Regions from separate parts of the Homo sapiens genome. Here regions 2 and 3 are each linked to region 1. Evidence: fine-mapped expression QTL. A gene starts in region 1. Each other region holds a variant in brackets. All regions are shown on one strand. Distances are between the middles of the regions.

Region 1 (10,875 bases):
TAGCTCATCACTAACTGGGGTGCTTTCTTCTTTCTTCTCAGGGCTACACACAGAATGGTTTTATTTTGTGGTGCTCAGTTCACCAATTTATCTTGCTTCCTACTTGGCTCAAACCAACACAAAGCAAAACCCTCCACAGCTGGTCACGGCCTCATTCTCAAAACTGTGAGACTTCCCAACTTCACTGACAGCCTGCCTTTGGGTCCGGAGCTAGGCCACCACGTGTGTGGCGGTGTGCACTCTCCACTGGGCCACCACTCCACCCTCCCTGAACGCCCTCACATGGTATGTTTCATCCCGTTCCGTAAGGTAACAGGTGATGTGTCTTACCCAGAGTGATCCCATGCTATGGGCCCATCTTATTTCATTTATCCAGGGAGAAGTTTGCAGAGATATCTAAAGTCTTTCTTCCCTTCATAAGATTCAGATTAAGTATCTCATTGCTCCCATGTCTCTCTTCTCATCCTCTTCTGGTCTACCCATCCCCTCCTCTCAGCTCTGGTTTCTAGAACACATTCCCGCCACCCTGGCCTCACAGCCACACTCAGGAGCCCCCCCAGGGATGGGTCAGCAGCCCCTCCCAGCCACTCAGCCAGAACTAAAGAGTCATCGGCATAAACAGGGAAGCTGGAGTGGAGTGCATGGTGTTAGTAACAGGCACTCAATAAATATTGCTTAACCACAGGTGTTCCTGTCTTTGCCATTTGATTACAGAGAAATTAGGAGCCTAGAGAAAGCAAATGGTCTATTCAATTTGGAAACAAGAAGAAAATGAACTACAAAGCAAATAACACTGACTTGGGACATGGAGGACCTGGATTCTGGTCCTCCCTCTGCTATCAGCTCGCTGTGTGACAACGCCAAGGCCTGTTACCTCTCTGGGCATCATCTGCCACATCTGGAAGTGAAAGATTAGACTTGATGAATGATTCCCATGCAATAGACAGAATCTGCCAGTCCAGGTGGCAGCTGGTGCAGGGCAGGGGAAGGGTCTCTAGGCTCAGGGAAATAGGTAAGGGTTCTCATCAGCAGAGGGCACAGATGCCTGCACTCCATGGCCCTTGCCTTTCCCTCCTCACAGATCTGTGGCTCCTGCCTCAGCTAAAAGCCCCTGCTTATCCGTTTCCTAAAGATCATCACAGAGGCTCAACAACCTTCCCTTTTTAACATCTCTTGCTGATGGAAAATTCTTCCTCATACCTAATCTAAGTCCATCTGCTGCAATTTCTGTCTATTTTCTCTAGTTCAATCCTTGCTGGAGATGGAGAACAGCTGGTCGCCATCCTCCATATAACATCCCCTCCTAAACCAAAATCAGTTATTACATCAGCCCTCATCCTGTGCTTCTTCTGTTACAACATCTTCCGAGCTGCCCTCATGGATTCCAGCTCTGAAAGCATCGCTGATCACCATGGCCCGCACGAGAGGATGCTCTGCAGGCTCCGAGAGCTTCCAGAGCTGTAGCATCTGCAGTGGGATGTAGGGCTCTGTGGCAAAATCAAGAGAGAAGGTTGGAGCGGAAAGGAGCCTGTGAGAACGTAGTCCTGACCTCTGGCTCTATATCTAAGGGGACTAAAAGTCAGAAAAGGCACATAAGCACATGCCCAAGTTCAAATCTGAGGGATCTAGCTCAAGTGCCAGAGCCCAGATAGTAAGATCACAAAGCCCTGGGACACTGCAGCATGTTTTCAGCATGGGTCAGAGCAGGACCAGCCAGAGCTAAAAAGCGAAGGCCGCCGTTTCCCACTCTGCTCCCCATCCAAACTCAGTCTGCCTCTGCCCAATCCCACTAGCAGGTGCCTGGAATTTGACTGTGCACATCTTTTGTTTTCTTTCCAACTTTTTAATTTTACGTCCGGGGGTACATGTGCAGGTTTGTTATAATGGATAAATTACACGTGGCAGGGGTTTGGTGTACAGATAGATTATTTCATCACCCAGGTAGTAAGCATAGTACCTGATAGGCAGGTTTTTGATTCTTACCCTCGTCCCACCCTCCACCCTCAGGTAGGCCCCTATTGTTCCCCTCTTCATGTCCATGTGTACTCAATGCTTAGCTCCCACTTATAAGTGAGAACATACACACATCTTTGATTTCCTTTAAGAATGTAAATACCTCTGTAAGTAGCAACACTATTAACTGTTCACACCTTAGTATGAATGAGTAGATTTGATCCTTTCCAACTATTAACAGATTTAGGGGTGAGAACAAAGAGCAAAGAAACTGAGAGCACAGCAGGCAAATTTCCCTGCATGCTAATGTTTCCAAGGTCAGCTCTGCGCATGGGGCTGCAGCAGGCGCAGGCCTCAGGACAGTGGCACAGTGAGGGCTTGCGGCTGGTGGGACTCTCCAGGTGTCAGACAGGACTGTGCTTCGAAGCATCTGCCCTGTCTGCCTCATGCAGGTCAGCTGCACCACTCCAGGTGCTCTGGTGAGGTCTGCATAGAACTGAACTTGGGGACAGGATTACCTCATTGCTCCCCTAGGGTAGGCTCCTATCACATTCCACAATTCCTGATGTCCCCTGGTTAACTGTTTCAGGAGTGAGGTGCACAAAACATCTACAATTAGATCTCCACCCTGGGGCCCCCTGAAATGACAGGAAGGAAGAAACAAAAAGTAACCAGGAAAGAGAGGTAACCCTACATGTAGGGTGAATGGAGGAAGGGAGGAAGGGGCACGAGCATGGGAAGGAGAGTGAGTAGGATGAATGATTTAGTCATAATTTGGGCTATGAAATTTTCCTAAATGAAAGATGAAGAGGGAAAATAGCAGAGTGTGGTGAATACATTTCAGGGTCTAGGTTTCAAAACAGCCTTCACCCCACCTTGAATACATGGAAATAGCGTGCTCCAACCTCTTCAACTTTCTGAGGTGTTCCAGAGTGTTTCAAATCTCCAGACACACCTTCCCCTAGGACAGGAAGGGAATTCACACATCCACAGAAAAAAAAAACAAGACATTGTAAAAGCGTTTACCAAAACAGCGAACACAATAGGCGTGCTTATTAGATTTCCCCAAAAGCACAAAATTAAATTTTAAAGCAGAAGGCAAAAAGGCTCTTCTCTGATAAAAATTTTAATATGTTTTCAGTCTTATTTCAGGGGACAATTTTCTTTAACAGAAAAATCAGCACAAAATGACAAGATCAAAGTAGGTTGGCAAAAGATTACTTACTGATATGTTTATGATGAAAAGGGATAACAGAAGGATGACAGGGATGGAGGGACAGAGGGGTAAGGAGAGGACTTTTATTTGCCAGGTAACTCACGCAGGGCTTGGAAAAGCAGAAAGACACAACCCCTTCCCACCATAGTGGTTAAAAGAGAGAGAGATCCAGTTTGGCCAATTGGGAAGAGGAGAAAACGCTGGGTCTGTGGATAGTGCTTATCCAGGGTCCTGGCCAAAGCCATCATGTTTGATGAAATGACAAGTAACACATTTAATTTCCTAGGCATTCATCGGTCCTTGCATACACAAACAGGCACGCAGCTTCACAAGGAGTTAATTAGCCTAACACCAGCAATTAGATTCTCCAAACTGGATCGCAGCAGAGGCGCTGGGTCCTGGGTTTCACACCTCACCCCATCCAAGGTGAAGCTGTAATGAGGGTGTTTTGCACTTTGTCAATTATTTTTCAGCTCCTAGGATCCTTTTTTGGTCTAAAGTTGTTATTTTAATGATCTCTGTTCCGAATGGGGAAATACAAGAAAGAGGATTGAGGAGGAGGCAGAGGGAAGGAAAGCGAGCGCTCCAGCGTGTCCCACTTGTACTTTCCAAGGCCCCCTCCGCCCCCTCCCCCCACACTGCCTCTTCCCTCTGTGCATGACTCACCCTTCAGGAGCTGTTTCAAATGCCTTACTTTTAATGTTTCCTATCACGATAGAAATCCAACAGATTGGCATCAATTAAAGGGAACCCCCAGTTTTGCAATCCTCAAACTCAAAAGCATTTTCTGGTTTCCTTACTGCCTTCATGAAAACCAAGGTGCTCTCATGCAAGATCCCCCACGTGCTGGGGGCTGCCCCTCCTGGGCTCCCTGGGGGTCACGTGCCCTGGAGAGGCCACAGAGGACGACGTCCATGACTAACCATGCCCACCGGCTGGGAAAAGTTCAGCTTCCGCTCCAGGCCCCCCAAACACAAAAAGATTATAATTGGCAGGGCTGCAAAATTGTTTTGTTTACTGTCAGATAGGAAGTACAGAAGAGAACGCTGATGGTATTTTGACACCCCCCCCAAAAAAAAAGTGGGCAGGCATTTTTTTAACCATTGTGAATAGAGTTTCAATAATCACAGTTCCCACCCAAAATAGCTGCCTACAGGAGGTGGAGGAGAATCTGTTGTGGTGGTTAAAGAAAATAAGAATTAAAAAGTGGAAGGGATTTGTGGAGCTGGAGAATCAAGACTGTCATCTGCATCTCCGTGGAAGGGTGCCCTGAGGAAGAGGTGTCACTGGAGAATCCCTCCCAGAACATGCAGTCTTGTCAGGACTGGGAATCGAACTCCCCAGCTGCGGGTTTAACGGAAATCAGAGGGATGAAAATCATCTAAACTCTTCAATGCCCCTAGGACTTGGAAGATCACCCCCAGACTATCAGCTTCAGAGTATCCCGCAGGTAGGCAGCGCAACTGGTGAAGTGCGGTGGGCACACAAGCAGAAGCTGCCTTCGCAGAAGAGGAAGAAAGTTCGAGACCAAGCACATCGCCTGCTTCCCCATGGGTCCCTGCTTCCTAGTGACTCACCTACCTAATATCTCCCTTTAGCAGAAGCCAAAGGCGGAGGAGGCAGGGGGAGAAAGGAGTTTCCCAAGGGTCTCAGAGCAAGAGAGGCCCCTGAGGTCTCGCGATTTAGAATGCTCAAGGGTGCTTCTGGGCTGAACCAGCTGCCTGCCGGGGTGAGCTGTTTTACTTCAAGAGCAGTTAGCAGAAGCAGTGTGGATGGTGACTTCAGCACCACCTCTGCCACAAATGCACCTGTGCACCAAAACAACCTGCGCACCTACACGGAGCCACCCCCTCCACCAGCCTCCACCTCCCAGAGCTGCGGGGATGCTCCGGGCCAGGCACCCCTTCTGGGGACAAGGGTGTAAGCTTCACATGGTACCAAACCGAACTCTCTATCCCGTTTTTTGGCTTTTTCTTTTTTTTTTTTTTTCAGGATACCCCAAGCCTGGAAAGTCTTCCAGAGTTTTCGGGAGCTAATTAATTATGTGATTTCCTCTCCTCTGAGAACTGTTTTGCTGGCGTGTCACCAAGTTGTCACGTAGGTGCCCACCAGGTCAAACAGAATAGACCATCCTCACCCACCCACCCCGGGGAATGTCTCCTTCCACCAAATAAAATGAACTGAGACAGGCAGGAAGGAGGCAGAAGTTTGAGGAAGGACTCCAGTTGAAGGTCACAATAGTTTGGGGAAGGCAGATCAAGGTAATACGAAGGGGACAGACCCTATAGCGGAAAACACAAACAACCAATCACGTTTCTCTCGGAACCAGCCTATCCATGATGGGTGCACCAGGAAACAGCACACCCTGGGATCCAACTTCTTTCACCCAGCACACCCGAATCTCCACCCCAGCCCTGCAGACACCCTAGCCTGAGACCAGACCTATTTAGACAGACCTGAGCGCAGCTAATTAGGAGTAGTAAACAAGCCCATTTCTTGCCAGCGCAGAAGTTTCCCAAATTGTCCGCTTGTTTTCCTCCCAACAAAAGACAGTGATTTCCCACCTTTATCACATTCCCTCCCAGAAACTTTTCTTTCTGCAATCCCTCCACCTAGGCTAAACTGCAAAGCCACTGGCAATGGAGACGCAGGCGCTGCACCCCCGGGACGCAGGCAGAGGTACCTTTTCCGCGAGGCAGAGGGGCCGCCGGTGCCCAGAGGCCAGCTGCCCTGCCGAGCAGTAGAGCGAAGCTGTGGGCTGGAGCACGCTGAGGATTACACGTTCCTGTCTCTGCGACCAGACCTTTCGGCAGCTCGGACCAACTGTGCTAGCGATGCACTTAGCAATTATCTGCTGGCTCCGACGCCCCGCCCTCTGCTCTTGCGATTGGCTCTCCAGTCCCGGGCAGGACTGCATTGGTTTCAGCCGACCTCACTCATTGCTTTGGCTCCTACTATTATCTAAGCCATCAAAGGAAATAATTCCATGTTTCATTGACAACCTGTAAGGCTCTCCTCCAGCCCAATGTGGGGGCAGGACCGGGAGGCCAGTGGAGAGAGGGGAGAGGAGTAGGAAAATGTGGGGGAGCGGGGTGGGGGAAGGAGGTGGAGGGGAGAGGAAAAGAAGGAGAAACTGTGGGGGGGTAGGAGGGTAGGAGGGAGAGAGAGAGAGAGATGGAGCTATCAAGCAATCAGATTCTTGCTCTAGCATTTTAACTTCCACAAAACAGAGCCCATAGCAACAATTTTCTGGCTTTATTTTCCCCCTAACTGGTAAATGTTGCTGAGGGCAGAGAGAATAATAACTATGGGGTGTCTGCCGGCATGAGACAGACTCTAGAAAGCCGAGCAAGGTTGAGGGCTGAAGGGATGGAGTAATGCTTTTCACAGGGCCACCCTGGAGGACATGTGAAGGACATGGCAGATTGCTTGGGGAGCATAGTAGGTGCATACCTGGAGTTTATCTATCAGTACTTTATCTCACAGTCCCCCTCATCCCCCAACCTGAGGAGACAATTTTCCTTTGCACCCTGTCCAAAGAGTCTCAGAAGAGCTATTCTTAAAATCCATAAAACTCTGGAGTTTCTCACTGTTCTCACTGGGAGGTCCAGAAAGCCGAGCATTCTAGAGTGAATGATTCTGCTGGGACCCTCACTTTGGTTTATTCTGACATGGCTTAAATTAATCGCTTAGACTTTCATCAACAACCTACGCACGTGAAGAGAGAACATACCCATCAAAGGGTGGGGACAGCTTAAACACTTTTCCTTGTTCACCAAGAAATCATAAAGTCTCACCCTAGTTAAAATGGCTTTTATCCAAAAGACAGGCAATAACAAATGCTGGCAAGGATGTGAAGAAAAGAGAATGAACCCTCCTACATTGCTGGTGAGAATGTGAATTAATGCAGCCACTATGGAGAACAGTATTGGGGTTTGTCAGAAAACTAAATATAGAGCTACCATCTGATCCAGCAATCCCACTGCTAGGTATATACCCCCAAAAAAGAAATCAGTATCTTGAAGAGATTCCTGCACTGCCATGTTTATTGCAGCTCTGTTCACAATAGACAAGATCTGGAAGCAATGTAAGTGTCCATCAACAGATAAATTAGATGAAGAAAATGTGGTACATATGCGTAGTGGAGTACTATTCAGCCATAAAAAGGAATGAGATCCTGTCATTTACAACACCATGGATGGAACTGGAGGACATTCTGTTAAATGAAATAAAACAGGCATGGAAAGACAAACTTCACATGTTTTCATTCATTTGTGAGAGCTAAAAATTAAAACAATTGAACTCATGGACAGAGAGAATAGAATGATGGTTACCAGAGGCTAGGAAGGGGCGGGGGTGGAATGGTTACTAGGTACAAAAATAGAGTTAGATAGAATGAATAGGATCTGGTATTTGACAGCACAACAGGGTTATTACAGTCAGCAAAACATATTGTACATTTTAAAATAACTGAAAGAGTACAATTGGATTGTTTGTAACAAAAGGAAATGCTAAATGCTTGAGGTGCCAGATACCCCATTTACCCTAATGTGATTATTACACATTGCATGCCTGTATCAAAATATCTCGTGTACCCCATAAATATATACACCCACTATGTTCCCATAAAATTAAAAATTTTTAAAAATTAAGAAGAAATCATAAAGCACAAATTTTGACCTTCCCCTCTCCTTAATGTATTTGTCACCATATGGAAAAGACATCACTTGGCAGCTAAATTTTCTTAACTAGGTAAAATATTTATTATTAATGTTTCTAAAATGAAAGAGCTTTTATAAATCAATAAGTACAAGACCTATAACCCAATTCAAAAATGGCAAAGGACAAAATGGGCTGAATTTTTTAAGAGAGAATTATAAAAGCGTCTTTTAAAGAAAGCTTTTAAAATATCAAATTTCAGATGATCCAGAAACTAACCCTTCAGCCTTCTTATCCTAGGATCTCCATGTCTTTGGTGAGGCTCTGGTCCCAGTCCTGCCCTGGCCTCCCCTGGGGCCTTGAATGGCTGTAGTCCTTATCTTCAGCTGCGTCCTCTGCAGCAAATGGCAGGTGCCCCACTGCCTTGTATGGTGACTTTCTATTTCATGCATACATGCCTGGCTTCCCTAAATACATTTCAAGCCCTGTAAAGACAGAGATGGTATCATGCATATTTTTATCACTCCACAGATAGCACCTAGCACTCAATAAGTGGGCTGACTACTAAAACCCAATTCAAAGCATCCAGGGTGCACAGCCCTAAGCCTCATGCGACCCTCATTCCACTGCAACTACTCTTCCAGCAGAGCAGAGTGTGGAGGGGGCCCACTCTGGAGTCCAAGAGCTAAAAATTCAGGACTAACCACTGTGAAATGCCTGTGAAATGCGGCAGCTCCAGAGTCACTCGAAGCTCTCTGTGTTCTCTCTGGAAAATGAGGCAGGTCTTCACCCAGTACCTTCCTCCTCCCTCAAGCATTTGAAGGAAATGAAAGGATGTGGGATGCACATTTTACTTGTGAGGCATGACCTCAAAAAATGAAGTCCTTTCCATAATGGCTTTCCAAATATCAGCATGAGTAGGAGACAGTGACCGTATATTAGGAATTCAAAACTAGGGCAAGGGATGTAGCAAAATATTTGTTTTCTATTTCATTCCTTTGTCTAGGTGAAATCACACAAAGGCACAATAATGAAACTAAACTTAGCTATACATTTGAAATTGACACTGTCCTAGAAAATCTGGTGTGTTCAGTCATGGTGTAAAAACCATAAATAACACTTTTATTATTTAAGCAGTATGATTTTTACTTTCGAGTGAAAGTAGGCTTCAGCTTTGTGCCTTCATACTATCTCTTTTTCCACCCCCCTTAAGAAAATAAGAGAAATAAACTAAATTATAAGAACTCTCTTGAGTATCTATCAAAGGTTTAGTTGTCCCTGAAGGAAAGGGAAAACATTTCAAGTGATTTTCTAAAATGCTTTGTCTAAAACAGCATGTCCTTACATGTACTTTTTGCCTTTTGAAGATGAGAGAGAGAGAAAGAAAGAGAGCAAGCCTCAAACAGTTGTTTATGTCAGTGTCTTTTAAACTGCCTGGTCATAAAATATCCTCTTTGAGAGAAGGATTCTCCCTTTGTGTCCCATAGATCAACTGCTTAATTCTGAGAGTTAGAGAATGAATATTAAATATGCAGATTCCACTGGTACTTGCATTTGTATTAAATATCAGCTCCATACAATTTAAATTCACTGGGGTATGAAATGTACCAAATTCCATGTTGTGGGCCATACTCGGCAAAGCAGTCCATTTTGATTTAACAGTTTCAGGACATTAATGGTGGGAAAGACTTTTGGGGGTTCCTGTTCCATTTTGAGTAATTAGGGAAAGAATGTGGGTTTCTTTATTAAAACACAAATTAGACAGCAGCCGCCGGAACCTCCATCATTCTTGTGGGTAACCACTTGCTACAACAAATGACCATGACCTACCGTGGGAGGCTGGAGAAATCTTGCATTTACTTGTCCGTGTATGCCATTTTCTCAGTTATCATTTATTTATGCCAAATTCTGTTTCTAAAAGGGAGAAGAGGAGAATAAATCTAGGCAATGCCAAGAAAGAGGAAAATGTGTGAAAACAAGAGGAAAACAAAGGGGGTGACTTTCAACACTACATCTTTGCTTATTGACTTCAGCCCTACAATACCATTTCAATGAAAACATAATATTAGCAGGATTTCTTGAACCTAGCATTGGAAGAATGAAAGGTTGTTCAGAAAACTTCTCCCAGCACAGTCTCCTAAGTAGAGAAACTTGGAAGAACATTTTCATAGCTTTCTGTTCTAGCTGATAGCTGTTGTGAAATCAAACTCCCTCCCCCTCCACCCACACCCCCACTCCCACCATGAAAATCAAACCTGTGGAGCCAGTGACATTTTGACAAAGCGTAAGAGGAGACTGTGGCTGCCAGGAGGGTGTCAGTCAACATGAACCATTCTTAATGATTTCATTAATTATTAATGAGTCTTTAGAAAGTTGGTATTAGAATATACAGGCTTCATGAGGTTTGAAAACAGTAAGGATATTTTATTATTTAACATACCCTGATGAATAAAGCAGGTGATTTTGTTTCTTTAAATCACAATCACATTTATTAGTGAGCCAGAGTTGTAAATAATCTGAAAAAGAGAAAGAGGAAGACAGAGACAGGGACAGATGGAGAGGTAGAGAGAGACTTGCAAAGCTAGATTGCCCACCTAAATTCTGTTTTACTTCAGTTAAATTCTTCATAAGAAATATGCAGCTGAAAGATGTCATGAAATATTATCCAGCGATGCAACAATTGACAGGGGTAGGGGAGCTGAATTAAGAAGGTCAGCTTGCCTTCTGTGAGGCTGGCAGGCCATGTGTAGTGTGAAGCACCCTTCTAGAATAAAGGTCTGCACACATGGAGACAGCTGTTGGACCCCTGCCAGACAGGACCCACGTTCTAACATAGCTGCTTTCTTGAAAGAACCCATTGAACATGTGTTTACAACACCTGCCACACACCATTTCCTCATTTATAAAGCAGAGTGATCATTGTTTCTAAGGCTGTTGAGAGAATGATGGCAAATAAACCTACAAAAGAAGACGCAGATGTCCTGCCCTTGATGTTAAGCCTAGTGACAATAGCAGGAATGTCTTGGCATGGGTCAATATTCTTGTGA
Region 2 (10,875 bases), 210 kb before region 1:
TTGCATGTATCACTTTGAATTTAATCTAGAAATAAAGCACTTTATCTCAACTGCCATTTGGGAACTGCTGTTCTGAGTCAGTCTATGAAATCAAAAGCAACTCTAGAATTCTTGAGATCAGATGTAAGGTAGATGGGGCTACTCTGCTCCATCATGTCAAGTCCCTCCCATCACCAAGATTGAAAGAATTCAGAGTATTAAATGTAAAAGCAAGAAGGTACCCTAGTCCCTGAGGGCTTGAAGACCACACCCCTACACCACTGCTTCTCCAATTGAGCAATGAGGCTGATGAACAAAGGAGCACTGCAAAGGAGGAAGTCAGTTTTAGGGTACATAAGACTTGCAGACAAAAGTTGGAAAATCCTTAAGCAAATTCAGTCCCTAGGGGAGCAGAAGCCTACTTAGAGCCTGAATTATTCTGCTGTGTCACCCACAATTATTAATTTAACTATGGCTTGGTCAAAAATTGCATACTTCATTATTGCCATGCAGACACAGATGGAAGGGAGCACATGAGACAAAATATGAATGATTTATTTTGAGGGATTTTTTTTAGGACAAGTGTATCATTAATAGCCAGTGAGGATGTAGCTGCTTTAAAACCTGCTGCTCCAAGTGTGCACCACCCACCAAGACCATTCAAAGCACTAGGCAGCTGATTAAAGAAGCCCATCTCAGGCCCCAACCTCGACCACAGGATAAGAATCTGCATTTTGCAAGAGGCTTGAGTGACTCATATGCAAATTAAATTAGGAAAGCACTGGATTAGGTTCCTGTCAGAATCACCTTGGGGATGTTTAGACACTCAAAGACTCCAGACCCACTTAGGCCACTGAGCTCAGAATGGCTTGGGGTGGGGCCCAGCCACGATAGATGTTAAAGCTTTGCAGGTACCTCCAATGGGCAGACAGGACTGGGAACCCTCAGACTGGAGCAACAGCGTAGGGATGGGCTTCACTTGCACCTCAGCCATACCAAATATTCATATAGTCATGTTTCATTCATTCAACTATGTTCTGGCACTGTGCCCTGCCTTAGGTATAGAGAGCCATCCATGACCTCAAGGAGCTTAAAGTCTGAAATAGACATATTTTGAACTAATTTTACAGGACTATTTTATTAAGATGTATTAATTCTACAGAAGTCTATGTACTTAAAAAAAAAATCACAGGCGAGGCACGATGGCTCACACCTGTAATCCCAGCACTTTGGGAGGCTGAGGTGGGAAGATTGCTTGAAACCAGGAGTTCAAGACCAGCCTGGACAACATAGTGAGACTGCACCCCCAGCTAATTGGGAGGCTGAGGTAGGAGGAAATCTTGAGCCCAGGAATTCAAAGCTTGAGTAAGCTATGATCACTCCACTGTACTCCAACCTGGGTAACAGAGTGAGACCCCTGTCTCAACGAAAAAAAATTGAAAATTAGCCTGGCATAGTGATGCACGTCTGTAGTCCCTGCTACTCGGGAGTCTGAGGTGAGAGATTCCTTTGACCCCAGGAAGCTGCAGTGAGCCGTGGTTGTGCCACTGCATTCCAGCTTGGGCAACAGAGTGAGTCCCTGTCTCTACAAATTAAAAAAAAGTAATAACAATTTTTAAAAATCATAAGAGCAACAGGTACAAAGAAAATAATATCATGAAATATCATTTTGAAATAAAACCAAAACCAGTTTCAAATCACAACTCTGGTGGGTTATTTTACCTACAGTGAGAATGTTTCCTAAAATAAAATGGGGCCAGTGGTTCAATTTCACAACCTTGTTGTGAGGATTAAAAGTGTCTGTTTGACAAAAGTTACTTTGCAGGCATCTTGACCACAGAGAAAACTAAGACTAGAACCCAGAGCCCCTAACTGCTGCCCTGTGTTCTTTCCTCAATCCCACATTGCTGGGCTGTGAAGAACATGAGGCGGGAAAAGTGGTTGGTAAGAGTGAGTCAGAAAAGTTAGTGCAATGGTGGTGGCATGTTCCTGTAGCTGGTCGTAAGTTTGCTGACACTCCAGCAGTCAGAGATTCCTTCAAAGCTATCTACGATGTTTTACAGAATAATAGAAAGTATATATAAGAGGCAGAGAGATGATATGAGGAAGAAAAGTATATGATGCAGGATAAAGGATGTGGAATTACTTAGCCAGAAGACGGGGCACTGAAGTACAACTTAATGACACTTGAGACACATAGAAGGTGACAGAATTTGGGCTGATGGCCAGCTGTTTCCCAAAGCTGCTGAAAAATAGCTTTGAAACACAGAAGAGAGGGAGCTTAAGGGAGCTGATCCCTGATGTGAAGCCATGCTGACTGTCCCGGGGAGGGCGGTTCTGGGAGGTTGGTAGAATTAAGGATTATTAATACCTGATGGGGGAGGGAGAGATATTGGGTAAAGCATACCAGCCAATGAGAAAGAGTTAAATAGAATCTTATTGGAAACAGAAAACATGTTGGTGATTCAAGATTCATGAACTTCTAGGTAGAAGTCATTCTATACCCTACACTCTGGATGAAACATTTTTTTTAAAGCACAATTTTTGAATATTAAATCATCAGGTTTCATCAATTGTATGGACCTCTTTCTCTCTGACTTACTTTGACTACAAATAAAACCTCCCTTTGTATCAAAAAGGATGGACTAAATGTTCATTTACCACATATACTACAGTGAATCCTTCCCTCACCTTCTCATCAGCATTCTTGATATATTAGTTTTGCTAACTGAAAATGAAAGGCCAGGCATTAAGATTTCATCTGCTCTGCAGAGTGAAATGCAAAATGAAGATGCTAATGATTAGCAGTTTCCACTAATCAGGAAATAATCACAGCAAGAATTCACGGGTAGGCCTTCAACCCATCTCCTGCTTCTCAGTTAAGTGATCTCAACAAGTGGCAAGAGAGCAGCAATCCTTCCTTCAGATGACTGAGGACCCTTAGCTTCCAAAGACTTACTGATTTCTAAGTCTTGAGGATTGCACTCAGAATGCCCAGATCATCTCTTCAGCCAGTACCACGACCGAGACAAACTGCTGCCTCCAAAAAGAGTTGCAAAAACTTCATTGCTTAGTCCTTCAATGCAACTGAGCAACAACACCACCACCACAACAAATTTAATAAAATAAAATAGGCCGGGGGGCGGTGGCTCATGCCTGTAATCCCAGCACTTTGAGAGGCCCAGACAGGTGGATCACAAGGTCAGGAGTTCAAGACCAGCCTGACCAACATGGTGAAATCCCATCTCTACTAAAAATACAAAAATTAGCTGAGTGTATTGGCATGCACCTGTAATCCCAGCTGCTCGGGAGGCTGAGGCAGGAGAATTGCTTGAACCCAGGAAGCAGAGGTTGCAGAGAACTGAGATGGCACCACTGCACTCCAGCCTGGGTGACAGGGCAAGACTCCATCTCAAAAGTAAAAATAAAAATAAAAACAAAATAAAATAAAATAAACTTTGTTGGGCCCCTTTAATCTCCCATTTGCAATTCATGGTACCTCAAGATGGCCAAAATACACTTACAAACCTTAGGTGGATTTATGATTAGAGCCATAAACTACTGAGTGCTCAACAAACAATAGAAGAAAATCACTTAGCAGGAAATCCTACACAAGAGAAACAACTTCTCTGAAGGCTGGTAAAGTGAGGAAAATATATTAAATTTCATATTTCTGTTTTCAGTAAGTGAACATGCTAGGTGTCTGTGTCATGTGACAATTTACATAGCAGAGTAACCTATCGAGAAATTAGAAATTATTTTCTTATAGGCTCACTTCATTAAAATGAGAGGAAATTTTGCATTCCATTCCAAAAACGTAGCTAGGCTCTGAAGTCTGGTTTTCCCCACCTCTGGGAGAGGATGAGCAAATGGATTTGTGTTGAGTTGTCTGAGAGGCAAAGGGATCTGAATGTCAAAGAGGAGTATGCCTGGTGTCAAGAAAGTAATTGGCTTCTTGGGGACTAGGAAAAAAGGGAGTTGTAACTGTTGATAGAGACCGGAGCAGCTTAAAAACAGTGTGTCCAAGGTGGTGGGACCTCCCTAGGAATGCCTCCCATGGGTCCTTGGTCTTCTTTTCCATGGTCTAGGTTGAAACGGAGGAGACTTGGCCCATGAAGAAAACAGATGATTAAAATACACTTCTGAGGGAGCCCCAGGGCTGGACCTCCAGCTTGTGGACGCTGAGAACACAACAGCATCCTGGGTGAGATCATCAAGTAGCCAGAGTCCACAGGTGGAGACTTCTCTGAGCCCTGTGAGTGGCACTAAAGAGGGAGAGGGAGGATACTCCAGTGAATGGCTGGGGCCGGTCTTCTCACTAACCTTCAGGGTCAGAGAACAGAAGTAATTTACATGAATTTAGAAAATATTTTAAAATGTTATGTTAATCGCACTCAAATGCCATGCAGTAATTTGCACCTATTGCATCTGATTCTTAAAGAAACCAATCTGAGCATTAAGTGAGAATTTTGAGGCTGATATTTAAAATGTATAGATATTTCAAAGAATGGGAATATAGTTTGGGACATTTACTACCCATTATTTCAGGTGTGATGCTTACTTTATGAGTGTCTTCTCAATTTCATAGACTAGACACTTTTAGGGTTCTTATCTTTAATAGATGATTCAGGAGTTGTTGCCAGAAAATCTTCTGCTTGTAGTTTTTTTTTGAATAGTAATGTGTTTTGCGTATGGATTTCAAGTCCTGACCATGTCTCCTGTTGACAGTTTCAGAGTATGCACAGGAAATTGATTATTTTATTGTTCTACTATTTTCCTTTATAAAAGTATGTCAAAGAATATTTTCTGAAACAAAGGTATAACAACATCATAAAAGATGCTGAGATCATCAACTGTCTTATACCACTATGTGATCACTTAAAAGAGAAAATCGAGTTTACGGTATTGAAAAGGATTGTGAAAATCACCTAGGCAGTAGGCTCCTTGTTAAAATCTTTAGTTTTATCCAATCACTGATCTCTTGTTTCATTAGTCATCAACTATAAAACAAAAAACACAGCAGTCTTAATCTAATCATTGCCCCAAGCTTGCTATGACCCAGCGCAGAAAAATTATGGCCAAAAGAATTCAGCTTACCTCACATTGCTAATGGATTTAAATCCTACTCGCTGTAGGATAGGCATGGACTAACAGGCATGGTTTCTCCCACCAGTGACACCAGGGAAGCATTACTGCAAGAGAAGTGTCTTTGCTGTCAGCCACTTGTATCACCTTGGGTAAATGGTTTCACCCCTCTGGGCTTCAGTTTTCTCACAAGGTATCTGAGATGGCTAAAATAACGATCACTAAGCCCCTTCCAGCTCTGCAAATCTGTGAATCTATTACTTACATTTATGAGCTTAGAAAAGCCAAAACATCAACTGGAACAAATGCACTGATCTAGAGATGATGCCTCAGAACATGCCAGCTTTCCTAATTTAAAAGAAGATGCACCACTATTAAGATCTGCTTGTTTGACAAACTATTGTTTGCATCTATTAAAGCAAGCATCTAGACAGATTATGCCACACAAACCAAATAACCTGATTCAGATGAAATAACTGCTATGGTGTATGAAATCTTATATGCAAATATGAGGTGCTGATTGAACCTAGAGTGCATGTATTATTCAAAATTTGAATTTATGTAACTTTCAAGCAGATATAGACTACCCTGATCTTTACTTATTCAACAGAGAACTTAAATAAGCAATTCTGTGTCTGGCATGGAAATTTATGTAAAAGTTCTGAAGCTCTGTCTCTCTAATTTTCAACAGGAAATAAGGAAAAAAAGAAGAGAACCAATAAGATTTTAGAAGAGGAATATACAATAAACACACTTACAATACATGCAATGAATGAGATCATTGCTTATCCGTTGCTTTTCTTACATTGTTTACTGTTCCTGCAAATAAGAAATACTTGATTTAAAGTGTATAAATATCTGTCTTTGTTGCTACCAATCCACTTAGTGAGAGCCTTGGATTTTGAAATGTTCTATTCAGTAGACCAGCAAATACCAGTAAATCACTTTGCTCCTAGGAGAAATTCAGGGTTAGGTTCCTAGGAACTTGTGGTTACAAGGTTTTGATCAATCAATATACAACCTTGATGTATGTGTGTTTCTGCTTAAATGTGTCTGATTTAATATAAATGTTTGATTCATTAACTTTAAACTCACCACCAATGGCACTGTAACTCATGTCTGAGCAAAGCTTATTTTCTCAGTAAGGTTCATCACAGCCTTATTGTACTTAGGAATATTAGATAGCACTTCAGCACTGCTCTTGGGGGCCATTTTAAATGGCAAAGTCACCAACAAAAGACACAAAATGTGCAAAACACGTGACACTAAATAGACTGCAAAAAAAAAAAAAAAGAGAGAGAGACTTGTTTACAGAATGAGAGCTGAAACAAGAAGGCAGAATGTCACCGTGTTCAACCTCAGCTGGGAATGTGCACTTGGCATGACTCACATTTTTCACAATTCCACACATGTCTGGGAATAACCCCAAAAGTGCCAGGAGAATTAATTTGGAGTTACAAATAAATCACAGTGGATTCATAAATACAGAATCCTCAAACAATGAGGATCAGTTGTGTGTATGCTTACACTTGTATGTATTTACATACAATAATATATCCATTCCACACTGAATTGTGTGGCAGACACTATAGTAAGTATTTTACTTATATCTTCTGCCTTACTATAGTAATTCTGTAATGTGTTTC[C/T]GTCACTTTACCTTTAACAAATTGAGGGCTGAACAGTTAAAACCACCTGTGAATGTTCCCATGGATATAAGCAGAATTTAAAACTGGGTCTGACTTCACAGCCTCTGTTTGTGGCCTCTGGTATTTGGTATATCACCTATTTTACAAAGAAAGGAGTTTTGTAAGATCAAGCAAGTGGACAGGGATGATACATTCCTGTTAAATTGGAAAACCACTGTTTTTTACCATCATACTTGACTAAAATTTAAATAACCAAGGTAACTAAATTTGAAAATAAAACTATAGACACTTAACTGCCTATTATTATTCTAATGTATGCTTCCAATTTTTACACATCGAACAAGTATTAATTAAATACCTACTATGTGCCCAGAGGTACAGTCATGAACAGAGGCAGTAATAACTGTGGTCCCTGCAGAGCACACCTCAGAATGGTTCTCTATCCATCCAGCCTTGTTACTGAAGACACACATAACCCTAGGGCCACTTCAAACTCTGAAGGGTCAAAAATGAAAGAAAGGTTATTGCTAAATTTGATGTCATTACCTGTCAAACTAATGATGTCTGGGAATTATATGAAAGATTGCACTCATATCCATTTTTACTGTGAATGATAGATGTGTTCATAAAAGCTTATAACTGAAACAATAACTTTAAGGGATAATGTAGCCACCAGGATAGATTAGACTCTCCTGTAATACCATACAACCGCAAAGTATCACAATAAAGGCTTATTTCTTGTTCGTGCAAAGTCTAACGCAGTTGAATGGCTCTCTTCCATCTTGTAGCCAGGTCTTAACACACAATCAATTGCAAGTCTGGGGCAGATAAAAAGCAAATGGGTGTCTGATAAGCAAAGTCTCTGCTACAGACACAGATGAATGTTCTTATTAATGCTGGATAGAACCTAACCATTCCAATTATGCATAATCTTAAAAATCACTTTGATGAATGGTGGAAAATGGAGAATAACTATAGTTTAAGGATTTTCTTCCATACATCAGATTTCCTCTCATTCATATTTTCTCCAAAAGTAAGTTTCTAAAGAGAAGAGTTAAATGATGTTTTCTTCAGGATTTTGAATGAGATCTTGCTGATATGGATTTATCATAAAAAAAAAGAGGTTGGGGGCAGGCACAGAATCAGGGCCTATGATCTTTGCCAGCTGCCAGCAGTTAACTGGAGTTTGCTCATATACCGGGTTAGTGTCCCCTCAAATTTATGTCCCCCTAGAAGCTCAGAATGTCAATGTTTTTGGAAATAGGTTTTTTGCAACTGTAACTAGTTAAGCTAAAATGAGATCATATTGGATTAAAGTGTGCCCTAAACCCAATGACTGGGGTCTTTTTTCTTGTTTTCCCTAAGACAGGGTTTCACTCTGTCACCCAGGCTGGAGTGCAGTGGTGCAACCTCAGCTCACTGCAGCATCAACCTCCCAGGCTAAATCAATCCTCCCACCTCAGCCTCCCAAGGAGCTTGGACTATAGGCATGTGCCATCATGCCTGGCTAATTTTTATTTTTTTGTAGGGAAAGGGTCTCACTACATTGCCCAGGCTGGTATCAAATTCCTGGGCTCAAGCAATCCTCCAGCCTCAGCCTCCCAGAGTGTTGGAATTACAGGTATGAGCCTGCTCTCAGTCACATCCTTTTCATCAATCTCTATCCCAGGCACCTCCCCAGCTCCTGACTGGTGCACAGCCTGGGAAGACTGCTTCCATTTTATACAGACACTCACCCTAGCACCCGTTGTGAGTTTCTGTATAAAAAACCCTTTGCCTCCTTGATGCATGTTCCTCAAGATCATCCAGTCTCTAGATCAAGAGTCAAACTTTGTATGTAAAGAACCACATAGCAAATATTTTAGGCTTTGTGACCTGGATCATCCCTGTTATAACAACTCACTTCTGCCATTGCAGCATAAAAGCAGCCACAGACAATATGTAAATGAATGAGTGTTATTCCAGCGGCTCTGCCAAGCATTTCAGAAATTCTAGTAAACATGCACCCATCTGGAGAAGGCGACTCAAGTTGCAACTCATTCTGCAGGAGACCCAGAAGATGCTTGATCAAAGGGCAGCTGGAGGGGGTGGAAAGGTAGTGATTCACAGATCCCAACTGCTCACCCTCATCAGACGAAGTAGCTGGCAGAAGCAATGAGTTGTGGTTCAATTATTCCAACACAGAAATCACCCCAGTTCAAGAGCCTGTTATTCACGGGGGTGGGGGCAGCATACCTGAGCAAAATTGTTTCTCTTACATCTTGATTCAGTTGACTGGATTTTCTGTGTTCCTTTTTTTTTCCTTTTGTTTTTATTATAGAAGCAATTTCAAGCCAGCTTGGTTAATTAGGCAGAGCGGTTCCTAGAGGAGCACAAGGCAGCCACCACGTGGAAGGTGAAGCCCTGGAGAAGCTGCTGCTGGGTGTGGCTGCAGGCAGTAAGGGAGGATGGCCATCCGGACTCCATTCAGGGAGCTGTACTTGATAATTCAGGAGGCCATAGTGTGGGTTTTCTTTTCCAGTGCCTCCTGGTCTTTCTCCTGTACTTGCAGTAACTTGAGAACAAGCCTCCACCTTATACTCTAAGGCTAGAATTCAGGTTCCTGTTTTGTTTTCTACGCGTGGTCTCCAGCCCAGCATGCTTGTATTAAATGGTGGTGTCCTGCCATGGTCTTCTCAGCCTATCCTTTCCTAGAACCCAGGACTGCAGCAGGCCTTGCTACCATCTGCCAGGCTTTCCCAACACCGGCACACTGCTGGTTCATTTGCATGCTCCCTGGGCCCAGAGCCTCCGATGCTGGTGCCATCCTCCTATCAGGCCTTCAACCCTTAACCTGGGACACCCCCACAATGCCTACTTCTGCTGTTGGGACTCAAAACAATATCTCAAAATGAAGACCTGAGCAGCAGCCTCAGAAGTGAAGTTTTTCTCTGACATTCTCCTACCCTCCTGTCTCCCAGTCCCATTCTCCCCCAAGGATAGCCTGGAAACCTGCTTCTCCAAGGCAGATCTTAGAAACCAGAACCGCCTTTTCCCCAAAGCCAGCCATAAAACCTAAAAACTATTGATCTAACTTCCCCTCACTCCCCTCACCTTTCTGTGTAAAAACTGACCATAAAGAAATTATCTGTTTGACCTTGCTGGAGAGTAGGACATGAGACCCCCTTTCCAGAGAGGGTCCTGCCCCACACCCAGAAGGAAGGAGTGCTGCTCAGAGAGGCCAAGAAGAATCTAGACAGACAGGCTTTGCTAGGTGTCCCCACTCTGTCCAACAGCATTAGATCGTTCCCTTTTTGTGCAATCATATTTCTACAAGGCTGCCCTTACTTTGTTGAAGTAACCATAAAAATGGCCAATTTCTACTGCATTTGGGTCTTCATTCTGAAGGCGCTCGTGTACACACATTGCATACATTTGCATGTCTTTTCTCCTATTGACCAAACTGCCTCATGTCTGACTACTTGCTCCCTCTAGTAGGAGGCCTTGCTTTCTCTGCTCCCTGCCAACAGCTGGGTTGACACCAACCCAAGCCAGGAGCCAGTTTAGCTTCCTAGGCCCTCTGATCTGTCTGGTGCTGCCACTTTCCAAGATCCTTTCTGCTCAAAGCAGTGACAGAGGGGAATGGATGGGAGGGCAAGCTGCAGAAGGGGGTATAAGCTGGGTGTGAAGGGGGAGCTGGCGCAAGGCAGGCCCAACCTGAGCCATAGCTTTCGGTGCACCACACCCTATTCGTTCCCTTCTTGCCTATCCAGCAACCTGGTTTCTGCAACAGGGAGGGCTGAGCTAGTCCCATGAACAGCCAAGACTAAGCCATTAAGTAAAGGCTGTACTTCGCTTTTTCCTTTTCCTTTGGAATGTATTGATGATGGCTAACAAATTACACTCGAGTTCTATTTCCCAGATCTGAGGGTGTTTGAATTCAGGAAAACAATTGGATGCTTGGTTGTCTTGAAGCTGTATTTAAATTCACAAAGAACTGGTTTTGCCATGTGGCAATTTTTTTTTTTTTTTTTTTTTTTTTTTTTTTTTTTGCAGAAAGAATAACTCTCCCATTTGCTAATTGATGTGATAAGCAAACACACACCTTCTCCTCTTCCATCATTACCTCCAAAATTTAATTTAACAGTAATATTCTGCTTCAGCAGAGAGAACAAATGGACTGGTT
Region 3 (10,875 bases), 100 kb before region 1:
TAATAGCTATTGACCAACTACGGACTCTAAGACCAGCACACTTTTCACTACACTGAGCAGCATATTCTGCCATGTTTTGTCTTAGCCTGAGAAATCGAAGCTCTCCCTTATAGCCCACAGACAAGGAAGCTATAGGAGGCCAGCCCTGTGCCCTGGTGTCCACTGGCTTGTCAATAAATTGGATAGCTATGAGCACCAGCTAACTTCATCAGGAGGGCCGCTGCACAGCAGAGGGGCCATAACTCCATGTCCGGGTGGGTTGCTTCAAAATCCACCAGTGTTGCTATCCACCCACAGCATGCAATGAGTTCACCTCTTTCTGGGATTAAAAAGACTAAAACTAGCTATGGGGTTGAAACTAGTCTGACTGGACTTTGAGGCAGAAAATACTTTTACATTAATTTTGTATTTCCTTACCTACAAAAAAATCCTATGTTTCACTTTCAATATTCTACATTTCTGTATGTGAGCTATATACTGTGAGCATATGCTGTGTTGAACCATATGAAACTACTATTTTTGTATGTGAAAAAAGGATTAAATATTGGCAATTTCATATGGTTCAACCTTATTTCTTTTATAAACTGACAAAAGTCTTGTTTTATTTTTAAAAAGGAGACTATAAATAGTTATATATTCCCTGAACTGGCCACTTTCCCCTCTCAAGTTCACTAATACTAATATAATGATAAGATTAAAAATCTTGCCATTAGCAACCAAGATATCCTTCAATAGATTAGTAGGTAAACCATGGCACATCCATACAATGGAATAGTATTCAGGAAGGAAGGAAGGAAGGAAGGAAGGAAGGAAGGAAGGAAGGAAGGAAGGAAGGAAGGGACAGAGGGAGGGAGGGAGGGAAGGGGAGGAGAGGGGAGGGGAGGGAGGAAAGGAAGGAAAGGAATGAAAGGAAGGGAGGGAGGAAGTGAAGGAAGGAAGGAAGGAAAGGGGAGGGGAGGGGAGGGGAGATGAGGAGAGGGGAGGGGAGGGGAGAGGAGGAGAGGGGAGGGGAGGGGAGGAGGTGGGGAGGGGAGGAGGGGAAGGGTAGGGGACTGGAGGGGAAGAGAGGGGAGGAAAAGAAAATAACTAAGCAATCAGGCCATGAAAAGACATAAAGAAAACTTAAATGCATATTACTAAGTACTAGAAGTCAATCTGAAGAGGCTGCATCCTATATGATACTAGCTATATAATGTTCTAAATAATGGAAAACTATGGACATGGCAAAAAGATCAGTGGTTGCCTGAGGGGTGTGGGGATGGTGAATAGGCAGAGCACACAGGATTTTTCAGCTGGGGAAACTGCTCTGTATGATACTGTGATGGTGGATACATATTATGTACTTGTCAACACTCATCAAAGATATAACACAAAGAGTGAGCCCTGAGCGCAACAGTGGGCTTTGGGTGATAATGATGTGTCCATGTGGGCTCATTAATTGCAGCAAATGTGCCATACTAATGCAAGATATTAATAACAGAGAGAAACCGTGGTGAGAGGGGGGTACATGGGTACTTTCGCTCAATTTTTTGTAAACCTAAAACTGAGCACAAAAATAAGTCTGTGAATTTAAAAATACAGAAACAAAAAACAAACAAACAAACAAAACCCTACTTTGCCTTTCATTGCCAGGTAAGAAGACTGAAGGACAGTTGAGAGAAGGCACAGAATAGGCCGTGTGCCCCTGGAGGGGGAATGCCATCTTTCGCTGTCCACACAAGGAGGAAGACAAGTTCCAGAGCCACGCTCCATCGATTTTCCAATCGGGCAAGGGCTGACCTTTCTTTCCTAATAGCATGATTTAACAACAGCCTTGAAATCCTTTTGCGAATTTGCTGCTTCCTTTCAAGCGTTACAAATTTTCCATTTGGGGGTGTTTCTAAAGCTCTCGTGATGTTTAATCTCATCTCCAAGTCATGCCGAAAAGTCCAACGCTTGCGAACATTTCCAAGTAAAATGAATTGCTCATGACAAGTAATGTCCCCAATGTTTTCAAACCTGCTGGTCTGTGAGGACCAGAGCCACTGATTTGTATCTATGTCGTTTGTCTAAGCCCTGAAGTTTCTCAAGGTTGAGGGGTCCCCTGAGGTGTGACATCTGTAATTACAATCCATCTGAATTCCTCTTGTCACCTTCTTCAGGAAAAGTGTGACGGACTCGCCCCTCCTTGGGATCTCTTAGTAGAAGCACATATTTGTGTATTTTCTGCCCCAGATCTGTACACTCCTCAAGGACATATGCAAGCTCCCTTCTGTGGAAAACAAAGCATGTTTATTTCTCCCCACCCGCTGGTATTCTCATTCAGTTAAGCAGAATGTCCACTTTCACCAAAGAGAATTTCCCTTGCAATTAGTTCTTTGCCAGCTGCCTTAGGAGACATCAAAAGGCAATTTTTTTAATGTTTTTTTTGGAAATTTTTGAACTCAAACATAAATATCATTTAATCAAATGCACTGATGCATTAGTGTTGATGCATAATGTGGTGCAGAACTCGGATAACAAGCCTCACTTTCTTACAGGGTAAGATGCTTTTAGGAAGAACTGACTTCATGCACATGGATGAGAAATAGCTTGTTGGCACCATAAGCTACAGAGACTCCATGGGCATTTGGAGGCATCAGAATCTCCCCTGACTCAGACATGGAGTTACCCAACACACCATATAGCACTATGTGTCTTGGTTCTGACTACTCATTGAAACCTAGGGCACCCAGAAAGGAAACACACTACATTGCATTTCACAAAGTCTTTCTCCAGCCAGATGACTCCAGGCACTCTCTACAGAATAGCCCACAGTCCTGCTTCTCTATCAGCCTTCTTCCGGGGGAGTTTACTTGGGCTTGGTGTTGCCTCCCTGTCTTAGGGATGGGGGAAAGACAACTACAGAAGAAATGAAGCCCAACAGCAGAGCACGTGGCCTGGTGCAGGAAACCGCAGGGCAGCGTGGTCTGGGTTTTAGCTCATTGATGCTGTGAGACACACACAGTCCCGCTGCCTTTCTAACTCTCCTTTCCCCAGTGGACACAGGTATTCCCAGGTCAGGCATGTCCCTCCCCTGTGGATCAGTTTTCTCCTCTCTGGGTCTTTGTCTCAGCTGGGGACACAAACGGCCAGCTGTCATCGTCAAGGGGTTGTGCTTTTGTGTGGCAATGATTGCGTTCATGTGAAGACAAGGGCTTACAGGTGGCGGGGGAGGGTGGGCATTGGGCAAAAGTGGCAAATGGAATCTCATTTTCCTGACAGCAGAGGAGGACTAGATGGCCCTGGAAGCTCAGAAGAGGGAGGGTGACAGATGCAGAAACACTCTGTCTTAGCTTAGGAACCTAAGACAAAGCCTCAGAAGTCCTCTCTGCACCTTTATTTCTCCACTTACCAATGTCTCATCAGCAATGCTATTCTATGATCCTGGCATTATGGTATAACTCCCCAGACCCTAGTCTAATCACACATCTACTCTGGACTTAGCCCTTACCTTGAAAGCCCTAACCTTGAGTCCATGTTTATAGCCAAGCATCCGATCATTGCAGCTGATTTGGGGGCAAACCTCCAAGAACAGTTGTGGCCAATGGTTTGCACACTCACGTGAAACACCCATGCAAAGAGGCCCTGGCACACCTGACTCCTAAAGACACAAATACAAACCTCACGAGGTCTGTCCATCAGGCAGCCAAGGACACGAATTAAAAGCTGTACTGGATCCTTATGAATACCATGATCACCAGACCATGAGACTGTTTTTTAGTGCAATTTCTGGCCAACATAGTTAAGTCCAGAATTTACAGTTACAGAAATTCAATTCAGAGCCTAGGCTGTCCCTAGGCTGAGAGGAGAATTTAGTATGACACCTGCTTCCTCCCTGGGGGCTCCTTTTATGTTTTGACTGGCTGTACTGATGCATCAGTTGGGAAACTGCTCTCATCAGTGGAGTGGAGTATTGATTTAAAGGTCTGAGACTCAGGAACTCAGGATATAAACTTTCAATCCCCAGATTTATTTTATACTATCCGTTGCATTAATGTTGCATATAAAAATTTCTCCATACTTTATAATCAACATTTTCCGTTCTGCAAATTGCAAACCGATGACATTCTTGAGCATCCAAAGGGATGTTTTATATTCCATTCACTACCACCACAAGCATCATAGCATTTAGCCAAGACACTGCCTAGACCAGTTTTGGTCCCTTCCTGTTACAAAATGAACCTGAAAAGCAAAAGAAGTGCTTAAAATATACCATCACAGCTTCTTAATTTTCCACACTTTCTTCTTTGTTCTTCTTTCCCACTTTCTTCTCACTCAGAGTCTTCAATAGCAACTCTGGTGTGTGAAGAGATAGAGAATAGCAACTCTGGTCTGTGAAGCCCCTCCTCAGAACAACCCAGCTCTCCCCCTCTGGCTGACTCTCAGGGGCTGACGCAGCTACAAAGAAAGGGGACGTTTCCGCTCCATATTTAACCGGCCTTGAAAGCCTGTATATCAACAGATACCCAGTGTGCATCCACAGCGCCCATGCACCTAACAGCAGGCTCCAAGAGGCTCCCCAGGGAGAGGAAACCGGCCCCACCGTTGTCTGCTCTGCTTAAACATGACACTCACCTCAAGGCATATCGCCTGCCATGCCACATTTTCCTTCCCAATAAATGACCCTGGCATGATTTACTCAGATCAGTACTGAAAAATGAAAACAAAAAAACATTGATATTTCATGTCAGGGTGCTTCTTTTTGTGTATTTAGCAGAGGA[G/A]GAGAAAAGCACTTGAGGAAGGAACAGAGCAAGTGCTGAAGTCAGCAACTCGCCAAGTGGCTGTCTGCTAACCAGAACCCTTGAATCTCACCCAGCTCTTTATCACTGTCTCTGTGGTATTTAAAGAAAAGAAAGAAAGAAAGAAAAACTTTCAAAACTGCAGACCTACAGTTCTCCCTTAAATGCACTACTTAGAATGATATCTCTTTCCCTCCCCGGCTCCGCCCCGCACAGCTGCTGCAGAGACTGGAGAGGTGAAGGTGCCTGGAATTGCAAGTCTGAAACATTTTTCACAGTATTCCCTTTTGCTTCTTCATCAGATCTAGTCTGGAATTCTTTCCCCTTTCAGTCAGAGGTCACCTTGTTTTCTCTCTTTCTTCTGAGTGTCAGGGAAACTGCAAGAAGTCCCAGAACAGAAAGCCACCTGCTGTGCTCGGAGATCTCATCTCCTTCCCAGGGCAGGATCCATGCAGCACAAGGCCTTCCAGCCCCATAACTGGCTAACTGGCCCCTCCTTAGCCAGTTCGCCTGATCTTCACCTCCAGGGGCCACAGGCAGGGAATCGCCCCTGGTTAGCTTTCCAGACTCACTCCCCTCACTCTGTGCTCCAGCAAAGCTACACTGCACACCATTTCCATGCACTCAGAGCTCTGAGCTTTTGTGCCATCCACCTGGAGTGTCCTTTTCCCCTTGTCTAACCACTGAACCCTCATTCACTCTGCAGATCCCACCTCCCAGTGCCTCTGTGAATCCGGGCCTGTCCACCACACCACATCCTACTCCACTAGCCACTAACACCAAAAAAAGCACCAGCACCTGTCTGAGCAGTGTGCCTCTGCCGGTGCACTTAGGGCCACTTGAGTGATATGACACTTGTGCCTCACACATTAATCTCTGGCCTCAAGGAGCTCCATGCCATTACCCAGACAGTGCCGACATTACTGCCCATCCTGCGTGCTGGGCCCCAGGCTCAGTGCTTGGCACATTCTAAGAGCCCAATACATCCTTACTGAATTAAAGAGATCACAATTGAACTCAACTGCATTGTCACCTGTCCTTTAACCTCAGACAGTGAAGGGGAGGGGGAGTGAGTGACAAGACTAAGGACGGTGGTATTTGGAGAATTTGCAAAATAACAGGGCCCAGATATTGTAGCTGTGCACATTACAGGACTTCCATGAGCTACAATTTCCTCTAAGGAACAGCATGCAAAATTGAGATATCTACCACTTGACAGGTCATCGGAAGAAAGAAATGACAGGATGCACAGAAAGATTGGTACAGCACTCGGTCCTCAGTAAATGGAAATGTTGCCACCAGTAAGCTTATCAGGCAGGGGATCTGTCGACAGGTCACAGTCTCCTCACCTGCAGCATCCCCCATTTTGAGGTAGCTGTGTTGAACATTAGAACATGCACTAGGACAGGCAGCCTTTGGATATGGGGCAAGACCTTGAATTCCAAGTCAGAACCCTCTAAGGAGTGAGCCAGGCAATTAAGCCAGGGCACTGAGGGGCTGGCAGGTAAGGCAAGGTCCTAGGGAGGCAGTATCAGGTGTCCATGCCCTTCACTCTTCTCCAGGGTCTTCACTGCTCCACCAGGCACAGCCCAGCTTCCTAGCAGGGGAAGCAAGAGGGCACAGTATGTCGCCAAAGAACTGGGTGCAGGGGGAACCTCTACTTCAGGCTAAGCGGTCAGGCTCCTCACTGGCTTTTTCCTGCATCTCCTTGTGATCTAGGAAAGTCTTCAAAGAACTGGAAATCCACACACAAACCAGAGCAGATATGCTCAGGGTCCTGATCTGCAAGTTAATGATCTGCACACATCTCGGAAAGAACTTTCTGATGTTCTCTTCCTCCTCCCCTGGCAAACATTTATCAAGCTCCACAGTAGAATGTGTTCTTGCTGACTGGCATCGCTCTGTTCCAAGGTCCCAATGCCAGGCTCTTTAATGTATGACAACCCACAGCAGGCAGGACATCTTATTTTTCAAGCCCCGCTTGTAGGTTTTATGAGAAAAGACGTTGCTGAAAAGCAGAAAAGAACACTAGAAACCAATAAATACCTCTTACTCCCTGACTGATTCCACTGTGAAGAGCTGCCTTGACTTTCCATATGCTGCATAAATCCACCCCACTTTAGAGCCACAGAGGTCCCTGCTGATGCTCCTGGTAGTCCTGATCACTTTCAACTTCTGTTGGCTCTGACAGAAGAAAACTTCATTGACAAAGTGGATAATTCTTACCTGCTTTCCCAGAGCAGCACTCGGCTGAGATTAATTTCCCTCTGCCTTTATTGCTATTGCTACTATTTCTCAACATTACTTCCTAAGGCTTCGACCTAGATCGACACAGGGTTCTATCAGTAAATAAAACGATGGTTAAACCTGAAGGCAGTTTTAGCAGCATACAGACTTTCCTCCACCTCTCTTCTCTACTCCAAGTTTTTGAACTGTGTTTCTAGCCATTGGAAGGGGCTTTTTTCAGGCCAGTCCCCTCAATTGGGACATATTCCCAGCTGGCCTTACCTTTAGCATCCTGCCTAGCTTCTCTCTTGCTGTGTCTGTCTGTGTGTCCATTTCCATCTTGATAAATAGATAGAAGGATAGATGGCTGGCTGGCTGGCTGGTTGGCTGGCTGGCTGGCTGGATGGATGGATGGATGGATGGATTAATAGAGAGAGAGAGAGACAGAGAGAAGGATAGATGGCTGGCTGGCTGGCTGGATGGATGGATGAATAGAGAGAGAGAGAGACAGAGAGAAGGATAGATGGGTGGATGGATGGATGGATGGATAGATAGATGGATGGATGGAGACAGATAGAGAGAGAGGGAGACAGATAGAGAGAAAGAGAGACAGATAGATATCCAAAACTATATTTAGATATCAATGATGTTTAGATAGTTTAAAACTGTTTCTGTTCCTGTCTGTCCGTCTCTCTCACTCTTTCCCTTTCCGTTCTGATATGTGTAGACAGAGACAGACAAAAGCAAAGACAGAAAAAGAAAGACTAAGGTTTTTTCTTTATTCCAAATTTAAAGATTTGTGCCTCTTTACATTGGAGTTTTATCCTGAGGGCTCTGAGGGCTCTCTGAAGGGTTTTCCATTTGAATGCACAAAATAAAGGCAGATATTTTAAAAATTTAAAACAATTTTTAAAATGTAAAGGAAAATAAAAAAGGTCAGAAACTCAGATCTGCATAAAGTCAGGAAGAGCATGGTTGAGGGTAAAATAAAAGAATTTTTTTTCTAATTGATCTAACAGATAACAATTTGTTCAAAATAATAATAGCAACAATGTATTCAATTGTATAAGTATGTATAAGTGAAATGAATGAAAGCAATAAAACAAGGTAAAGGAGAAAGGGATTAGGACCATTTTGATATTATGAGATACACCAACCATGAAGGGGTATAGTGCTATTTGAAAGTAGACTTGGATTAGTTGTAAGTGAATATTATGAACTGTAGTCCAGGCAATAAAAAGAGTAAAAAATAAGAATAACTAATGTGTTAATAAAGGAGAGAAAATGGAATCATATAAAATGCTCAATAGAAACCAGTGCAAAATAAAAACAGAAACAAAAAGCAAGGGCAACAGATAGAGAACAGTAACAAATATATTAGATATTAATCTAACTACAGTCATTTGCTGCATGGCAGCATTTGAGTCAACGATGGACCACACGCCCAAGAAAAGTTATCAAGGATAAAAAGAGGTATTATGTAATGATAAAGGGCTAATTCTCCAAGAAGACATAACAATCCTTAAAGTGTATAGACCTAATAACAAGGCGTCAAAACACATGAGGTAAAAACTGATAGAACTTCAAGGAGAAATAAACGAAGCTCTTACTATGCTTGGGCACTTCACCACATCTCTATCCAAAATGGACAAAGCCAAAAAGCAGAAACTAATAAGAAAGAACATAAACACAACACCATTAATCAATGGAATATAATGGATATCTATAGACTATCTCATCCAACAACAGCAGAATACACATTCTCAAACTTATTTAGGACATGCATCAAAATAAGCCACATTCTGGCTTTAAAACACCCCTTAACAAATTTAAAATAATAAAAATCATAATAGAAATAATAGAAATCACTATCAGTTCTCAAACCACAGTGGAATTAACCTGGAAATCAATAACAGAAAGATAGTTTAAAAATCCCAAAATACTTGGAGATTAAACAATACACTTCTGAATAACACATGGGTCAAAAAAAACTCAAGAAACACTTTAAGATATTTTGAACCAAATGAGAATAAAAACACAACTTAAAATTTGTGAGATGCAGTAAAGCAGTGTTTAAAGCAAAATTCATGGCATTGAATGCATACATCAGAAAAGAGGAAAAAATTAAAATCAATCACATAAGGTTTTAACTCAGAAAACTAGAAAGAGAAGAAAAAAATTAAATTCAAAGCAAGCAGATGAAAATAAATAAAATTAGAAACAGAAAATTATAGAGAAAATTATCACAACCAAATGCTCATTCTTCGAAAACATGAATAAAATCAATAAGCCTCAAGCAAAGCTAAGAACAAAAAAGAGATGACACAAATTACTAATATCAGAAATTAAAAAGGGAACATTACTACAGGTCTCATGAACATTAAGGCAATAATTTAAAAATGCCATGAAAAATTCTATGTCCAAAAATTTAATAACCTAGATGAAATGGGACCAATTTCTTAAAAGACACGATCTGACAAAAGTCACACAAGAAGAAATAGATAATGTTAATAGGCCTATATATATTAGAGAAATTGAATTAATAATGGCCTTCCAAAACAGAAAGCACCAGACGTAAATGGGTTCACTAATGACTTCTACCAAATATTTTAGGAAAAATTATACCAATTCTCTATGGTGTCTTTCAGATGATACTTTCTTTAAAAAAAAAAATATATATATATATATATATACATATATATATTCGGTGGGGTGCGGTGGCTCACGCCTGTAATCCCAGCACTCTGGGAGGCTGAGGCAGGCAGATCATCTGAGGTCAGGAGTTCGAGTCAAGCGTGGCCAACATGCTGAAACCCTGTCTCTACTAAAAAATACAAAAAATTAACTGGGTGAGGTGGTGCACACCTGTAATCCCAGCTACTCAGGAGGCTGAGGAAGGAGAATCACTTGAATCCAGGAGGCAGAGGTGGCAGTGGGCTGAGATCGCACCATTGAACTCCAGCCTGGGCAACAAGAGCGAAACTCTGTCTTAAAAAAATAATAATAACAATTTCAATAATTCCATAAGCTGCTTTTTAACTCCTTCTATGAGGCCAGCATTACTCTAGTACCAAAATCAGAAAACAGTATTATAAGAAAAAGAAAACTACAGACCAATATCTCCTATGAACATAGATGCAAAATTTTCCAACAAAATATTAGCAAATTAAATCCAACAATGTACAAAATAAAGGATACACCACAACCAAGTGAGATTTGAAGTATGCTAGACTGGTTCAACATTTAAAAATCAATTAATGTAATCCGTTGCATCAACGGGCTAAAGAGAAAAAAAAATCGCATGATCTATTAAAAGATGCAGAAAAAACATTTGACAAAATCCAACACCCATTCATGTTATGAACTTTCAGTAAAATAGGAATAGAGAAACATTTTCTCAATATTATAAAGAACATCTACAAGAAACCTTCAGCTAACATCATACATAACAGTGAGGAATTCAAATCTTTCTTGCTAAGATCAGAAAAAGACAAGAATGTCTCCTCTCACCACTGCTTTTCAGCATCGTACTGAAAGTCCTAGCTAATGCAATAAGGAAAGAAAAGGAAATAAAAGGTATACCTTTTGGGAAGAAAGAAATAAAACTATCCTTCTTCACAAATGACATGATTGTTTTTATAAAAGATCTCAAAGAATCAACAAAATGGCCCCTAGAATTCATAGGTGATTATAGCAAAGTCACAGAATACAAGGCTAGTATATAAAAGTCTATTATTTTTCTATAACCAACAGCAAGTGAAATTTGAAATCAAAATGCAATACTATGAATGTTAGCACACAAAAACTTATTTATAAATATAATAAAATATGTATAAGATCTATATAAGAAAAACTGTACAATTTTGATGAAGAAAATCAAAGATGAACT

Which allele goes with the higher level. Alleles are on the strand shown, and positions count from the first base shown. SD is a standard deviation of normalised expression in the study named. Not every link is listed here.
As copies of G replace A in region 3, the expression in thyroid of the gene that starts at base 5,996 in region 1 goes up (moderate effect, 0.59 SD a copy in GTEx).

The links.
Region 2: its variant is fine-mapped to the expression of ZMAT4 in whole blood (TOPMed, PIP 0.99).
Region 3: its variant is fine-mapped to the expression of ZMAT4 in thyroid (GTEx, PIP 0.90).

The regions. Positions count from the first base shown.
Region 1 is chr8:40,891,831-40,902,705 of GRCh38, forward strand. It overlaps ZMAT4 (zinc finger matrin-type 4), which reads right to left and starts at 5,996. Exons shown (of 7, transcript NM_024645.3): 1 at 5,853-5,996.
Region 2 is chr8:40,685,063-40,695,937 of GRCh38, forward strand. The region is part of intron 4 of ZMAT4 (zinc finger matrin-type 4); the gene reads right to left. Among named protein-coding and RNA genes, the nearest start is that of ZMAT4, 210 kb to the right of the region's middle. The variant C/T (reference allele first, on the strand shown) is at 6,711.
Region 3 is chr8:40,791,694-40,802,568 of GRCh38, forward strand. The region is part of intron 2 of ZMAT4 (zinc finger matrin-type 4); the gene reads right to left. Among named protein-coding and RNA genes, the nearest start is that of ZMAT4, 100 kb to the right of the region's middle. The variant G/A (reference allele first, on the strand shown) is at 4,743.